Homo sapiens: one gene and its partner. The protein of the gene in region 2 purifies or fractionates together with the protein of the main gene of each other region. This does not show direct contact. Each region holds a gene or a part of one and is shown on either strand. Other genes may lie near its edges.

The links. Proteins that work in one complex are often made in the same cells at the same time.
Region 1: the proteins of SLC46A3 (region 2) and TMEM106B purify together in Homo sapiens (affinity purification with mass spectrometry; one large-scale study listed by BioGRID and IntAct). This does not show direct contact.

Annotation. Positions count from the first base shown.
Region 1 is NC_000007.14:12,238,794-12,242,293, forward strand, and holds part of TMEM106B (transmembrane protein 106B), read left to right. Parts: 3' UTR 1-3,500. UniProt on the Homo sapiens protein: In neurons, involved in the transport of late endosomes/lysosomes. May be involved in dendrite morphogenesis and maintenance by regulating lysosomal trafficking.
Region 2 is NC_000013.11:28,705,471-28,708,970, forward strand, and holds part of SLC46A3 (lysosomal proton-coupled steroid conjugate and bile acid symporter SLC46A3 isoform a precursor), read right to left. Parts: intron 2,163-3,500; exon of another isoform or gene 1,127-2,162; intron 1-1,126. UniProt on the Homo sapiens protein: Lysosomal proton-coupled steroid conjugate and bile acid transporter. Preferentially recognizes lipophilic steroid conjugates or bile acis as endogenous substrates and seems to mediate escape from lysosomes to the cytoplasm.

The sequences.
Region 1 (3,500 bases), on a different chromosome or scaffold from region 2:
AAAATATTCAGTGAACCGTGTTGTAAACAGATGTCATATTATCCAGACTGTTCCATTTATTGAACACAGGCAGAGTAGGTAAAAGTTTTAAGGGTCCTAGGATTTTCAGGATGGCAAATGAGCATTGGCTTCAACTTAAAGTCACCAGCTACATTCACCACTAAAGAGAGTCAGCCTGTCCTTTAAAGCTTTAAAGGCAAGCATTGACTTCTCTTTAGCTATGAAAGTTTTAGATGGCACCTTTTTGTAAAAGAAGGTTGTTTTATCTACATTGAAAATATATTGTTCATTGTAACCACTTTCATCAATGATCTTAGCTAGATATTCTGGGTAACTTACTGCAGGTTCTCCATCAGCACTTACTGCTTCACCTTGCACTTTTATATTATGGAAACAACTTATCTCCTTAAACATCATTAACCAACCTCTTGGTAGCTTCCAACTTTTCTTCAATAGCTTCCTCATCTCTCTCAGCCTTCATAGAATTGAAGCGTGTTAGGGCTTTGTTCAGGATTAGGCTTTCACTTAAGGCAATGTTGTGGCTGGTTTGATCTATTGAAACCACTAAAACATTCCCATATCGGCAATAAGGCTGTTTGATTTTCTTATCATTCATGTTTTCTGGAACACTTTTCAATTACTTACAGTAAGGAAATAGCACTTTTAATTTCCTTCAAGAACTTTTCCTTTGCCTTCACAACTTGTGCAAGAGACCTAGCTTTCAGCCTATCTTGACTTTCCAAGATTGTCCTTGGTGAGAAATGCTTGATTACTAGGTGTAATTATTTCTAGCTTTTGATTGAAAGTGAGAGATATGTGACTCTTCCTTTTACTTGAACAGTTAGAGGCTATTGTAGGATTATTAATTGGCCTAATTTCAATGTTATTTTGTCTCAAGGAGAGAGGGATGTGGGAACAGCTGGTTAGGAGAGCAGTCCGAACACACACTTTTTTTTATTACTTTCACTGCCTTACATGGGTATGGTTCATGCTGCCTCCAAATACTTACAAAAACATCAAAGATCACTGATTACAGATCATTAAAATAGGTTTAATAATAATGGAAACATTTGAAATATTGCAAAAATTACCAAAATGCGACAGAGACATGAAATGAGAACATGCTGTTGAAAAAAATGGCACTCATAGACTTGTTGGACACAGGATTGAAAGAAACCAATTCATCAAAACCACAATATCTGCAAAACGCAATAAGGTGATGCACAATAAAAGGAAGTATATCTGCACTTCCTTCTTTTTTACTGAAAAAGCCCAAGTTCTTACTCTGGTGTTGAGAACCTTTCATTAGCTGGCTACAATCTCAGTTCACAATCATTTCTTATTGCCCTTCAACAATGTCCTGACCAAATCGAGTTCTTTCTCATTGGGAACAGTTCATTCCTTTATCCCTTCGCTCATTCTGTTCCTTTTTTCTTAGAAAAATTATTTGCCCATGTTTTTTATCCCCCAATTCTATCTTTTTCAATGCCCACTTCGTGTCCAACCCCTCTCTACTTTCCCTCTAAACTTACTCAAACACTTGGTGAACTTTTTCTGAATGTTTTTTCTGAATGTTTACTTTTAAAGGAGTTGCCCAGTCACAAAGTTTGAGCCAAGTTTTTTTGTTTTAAACTTGTTTTAAACTTTTGTTTTCATCAACTTTTTTCAAACAATTTTTGTCAGCTTAGAGGTTGTGTTTTAATTACTATTTTTAAAATCTTGTATGAGGTAGTATGATTTGAAATTAGATGGAATGTGCCCAAAATTATCTCTGTAGAATAATATGGAAAAACGAAAATGAAAAGATGTATTACCTGAATGTGCTCCTCCTAGCCAGTTTCTCAAGGGAGAAGAATCATTAATAAGTTTGTGAGGCTTTTTTTTTTTTTCTGGTAGATTTCTGTTTCCTTGATCAGTGGTTTTTCAGAATTTTTTAAAGCTTGTGAAATACTTATTTGTAAATAGCATCTTATGAGGAACCTTGATATGTGACAAAACAGATGCTTTGATTTGAGAGCAGAAGACCTGCAGCCCCTGACTGCTCACCTTTCCAGGGACCCCTGAACATTGGCCTAGAGGGTAGTGTACAGTCACTTCTTCAGTGATAACTTACTGAGTGTGATTCAACAAAACTGCTTTGGTTTATGGGTGAAACATAATTTATAACTAGGCAAATGTCAGCTTAAATTTATATTTTCTAAATAGCACTGAAAATGACAATAGACAAATGTAATTTCTGATTTTTAAGAAATGATTTTCCATTTTAACATACATTTTAAATGTTTTGTCTTCAAAGGGAATCCTTAAAAATGATATATTGGAAACCACTGATTTCTTATTTTCATTTCATGAATTTCAGATTCATGAATGGAATATATTGATAATAGCATTTTTTAAGTTGCCCCAAAAAGATGAAATACAAATAATTTTAATCCCAAATCTATTTCAGACACCTAACTTTTTTTTTATTTTTTATACTTTAAGTTCTAGGATACATGTGCAGAACGTGCAGGTTTGTTACATAGGTATACACGTGCCATGTTGGTTTGCTGCACCCATCAACCCGTCATCTACATTAGATATTTCTACTAATGCTATCCCTCCCCTAGCCCCCTACCCCACAAAAGGCCCCAGTGTGTGATGTTCCCCTCCCTGTGTCCATCTGTTCTCATTGTTCAACTCCCACTTATGAGTGGCAACATGTGCTGTTTGGTTTTCTGTTCCTGTGTGTGTTTGCTGAGAATGATGGTTTCCAGCTTCATCCATATCCCTGAAAAGGACATGAACTCATCCTTTTTTATGGCTGCATAGTATTCCATGGTGTATATATGCCACATTTTCTTTATCCAGTCTATCATTGATGGACATTTGGGTTGGTTCCAAGTCTTTACTATTGTGAACAGTGCTGCAATAAACATATGTGTGTATGTGTCTTTACAGTAAAATGATTTATAATCTTTTGGGTATACACCCAGTAATGGGATTGCTGGGTCAAATGGTATTTCTGGTTCTAGATCCTTGAGGAATCACCACACTGTCTTCCACAATGGTTGCAATTTACACTCCCACCAACAGTGTGTAAAAGCTTCCTATTTCTCTACATTCTCTCCAGCATCTGTTGTTTCCTGACTTAATGATTGCCATTCTAACTGGCGTGAGATGGTTTCTCACTGTGGTTTTGATTTGCATTTCTGTAATGACCCGTGATGATGAGCTTTTTTTCATGTTTGTTGGCTGCATAAATGTCTTCTTTTGAGAAGTGTAAGGTACTTAATTCTTAAATTAAAAAAAAATACCCGGCCGGGCACGGTGGCTCACGCCTGTAATCCCAGCACTTTGGGAGGCCGAGGCGGGTGGATCATGAGGTCAAGAGATCGAGACCATCCTGGCTAACAAGGTGAAACCCCGTCTCTACTAAAAATACAAAAAATTAGCCGGGCGCGGTGGCGGGCGCCTGTAGTCCCAGCTACTCGGGAGGCTGAGGCAGGAGAATGGCGTGA
Region 2 (3,500 bases):
TATTCATTGAATGATAGGACAAACATTCATAAAACATACGTCTATCTCTGCAAAATATCGTGTGCTCACTTATGTGTCTTCTTTTGACTAAAATGAAAGCTTTGTCGATCTGCCTTGTACATCTGCCTTGCTCACAGCTGTATCCCTAGGGCTCAGCTGTCCGGGTGCATGGCAGACATTTAATAAATATTTGTCAAATGAATGAATCAAAGCTTAATTCAGGATCCCATTTACCAGTCATCAAGTAGCATGCAGACTTACTGCCTCCATGATTTATGATAATACATTAAGTCAGTTTAATTGGAAGGATGTTCTTCTACTTGTCTAACTACATTATTTTCTTTTATTTCTGATCTCTTTCTGCAGCCAGGAATAGTGCTATGGAAAACAGACTGCACAGTACTAGTTCTATTATGTAAGAGTTTTAATCTATTCTTGATGGGAAATAGGTCAGACACTGCACCATCTGTTCTGATGGAACCATACTATTATGAAGTAGCTTTAGCTTATTGCCCAACTTCTCTGAGCAGTTCGACTTGTTTAATAGTTGCCAGAGATAAAACAGGATTAAAGGATAAGTACAACTGAGTTCATCTTCTAAATTCTGTTTTTTTTTAATGCAATAGACCTCAAAAATCAAGTCTGTTTTACTGTCTCCCAATTTATAATAACAAGGAGTATATGGGTGATGCCCAGGTAAAATAGTCCAAGGCAGCTTCAGCTATGAGTTCACAGTGGTGCAGAGCGCAGAGATTGCAAAATAATTACCAGAATTCCACTTTCTTACCTTTCTTATTTAAGATAATAGAAATAATGAGAGCCAACTGAAAACTTCGGCAGTATTTCCCCACTCCTCTGATTATTTAAAGTGCCTAATATTTTCACAAAATGGCCAATTTAAATAATAATGAAGGATGCGAATACATTTAGTTATAGAAATGTTGACATCATCCAAAAGATTGTTTAGTTTGCAGTTAAGAACAAAGTAAGTATCCTAGAATAATGAAGTCACAATTCACAGTTACCGTAATTCAAAATAAGAAATGCCAAAATGTAAACATTTTAAAATATTACTATATTTAACAGTATGATATGACTTTTTTATTTTTATGTTTATTTTTCGTAGAGATAGAGCCTCCCTCTGTTGCCCACACTGCTTTTGAACTCCTGGTCTCAAGTGATCCTCCCACCTCGGCCTCCCAAAGTGCTGGGATTACAGATGTGAGCCACTGCACCTGGCGGAGATGACTTTTTAAAAGCCTTTATAAGGATATGAACAGACACTTCTCAAAAGAAGACATTTATGCAGCCAACAGACACATGAAAAAATGCTCATCATCACTGGCCATCAGAGAAATGCAAATCAAAACCACAATGAGATACCATCTCACACCAGTTAGAATGGCGATCATTAAAAAGTTAGGAAACAACAGGTGCTAGAGAGGATGTGGAGAAATAGGAACACTTTTACACTGTTGGTGGGACTGTAAACTAGTTCAACCATTGTGGAAGACAGTGTGGTGATTCCTCAAGGATCTAGAACTAGAAATACCATTTGACCCAGCAATCCCATTACTGGGTATATACCCAAAGGATTATAAAACATGCTGCTATAAAGGCACATGCACACGTATGTTTATTGTGGCACTGTTCACAATAGCAAAGACTTGGAACCAACCCAAATGTCCATCAATGATAGACTGGATTGAGAAAATGTGGCACATATACACCATGGAATACTATGCAGCCATACAAAAGGATGAGTTCATGTCCTTCGTAGGGACATGGATGAAGCTGGAAACCATCATTCTCAGCAAACCATCGCAAGAGCAAAAAACCAAACACCACATGTTCTCACTCACAGGTGGGAATTGAACAATGAGAACACTTGGACACAGGAAGGGGAACATCACACACCGGGGCCTGTCGTGGAGTGGGGGGAGGGAGGAGGGGGGAGGGATAGCATTAGGAGATATACCTAATGCTAAATGACGAGTTAATGGGTGCGGCACACCAACATGGCACATGTATACATATGTAACAAACCTGCACGTTGTGCACATGTACCCTAAAACTTAAAGTATAATAAAAAAAATTTTAAAAAGCCTTTATAAACTAAACCAAATATAAACAAAAATAAACTATACCTCTTGACAGCTCTATTTTAGCTCTAAGTCAAAGCAGGTAAATTTTTTTTCCCAATAGCTTTATTGGGATATAATTAACATCCCACAAACCTCACCCTTTTAAAGTCTGCAATTCAGTGGTTCTTAGTATGTTGCAGATTTGTGCAACCATCACCACTATCTGTGGAACATTTTCATCACCCCGAAAAGAAACTGTATACCCATAAGTAGTCATTCCCCTTCCCCAGCCCCAGTCAAGCCCTAATCAAATTTCTGTCTCTATGGATTTGCCTATTCTGCACATTTCACGTAAACAGAATCATATTTAAATGACAATATGTGGCCTTTTGTGACTAGCTTCTTAAATTTGGCATAATCATTTCATAGTTCATCCATGTTATGGCATGTAACAGAACGATATTTCTTTTTATTGCAGAAGAGCAGTTTGCTGGATGGATAAACCACATTTTGTTTACCCATTTGTCAGTTCATGAACATTTGCATAGGTTTCACTTTTTGGCTATTATGAATAATGCTGCCATGAACAAGATTTTATGTGGACATATGCTTTCACTTCTCATGGTATGTAAGTAGGGGAGGGATTGCTGAGTCATAAGGCAACTAACTTTCTGAGGAACTGCCAAACTGCTTTGTACAGCTGCTGCACCATTTTATGTTCCCACTCGCAGTGTATGAGGGCTCCAATTTCTCCACATCCTCATCAACACTTGCTATGGCCTATTTTATTTTGGCCACCCCAGCCCACTCTGTGGTTTTGCTTTGCATTTCCCTGATGGCTAATGATATCCAGCATTTTCATGCGCATATTGGTCACTTGTATATCTTCTATTCAAATCCTTTGCCCATTTTTAAATTGAGTTGTCTTTTTGTTGTTGAATTTTAAGAGTTCTTAAATATGCTGGATACGAGTTCCTGCTCAGACAAATATAATTTGCAAATATCTTCTCCCATTCTGTGGGTTGTCGGTTGTCATTTCACTTTCTTTCTTTTTCTTTTCTTTTTTTTTTTTTTTTTTGTATTTTTAGTAGAGACGGGGTTTCACCATGTTGGTCAGGCTGGTCTCAAACTCCTAACCTCGGGTCATCCACCCGCTTTGGCCTCCCAAAGTGCTGGGATTGCACATGTGAGCCACTGCGCCTGGCCTCACTTTCTTGATGTTGTCCTTTGAAACATAAAAATTTTTCAAAGGACAAACTTTGAATGAAGTTTTTGGATGAAGTCTAATCTATCAATTTTTCCTTTGTTCTTGTGCTTTTGGTGTCATATCTAAGAAACTATTGCATAGTCCAAAGAAGCAGATAGATTTTTACATAGTTTATATAAATTTTTCCATTTGTTATTGGTTTTCAAAGC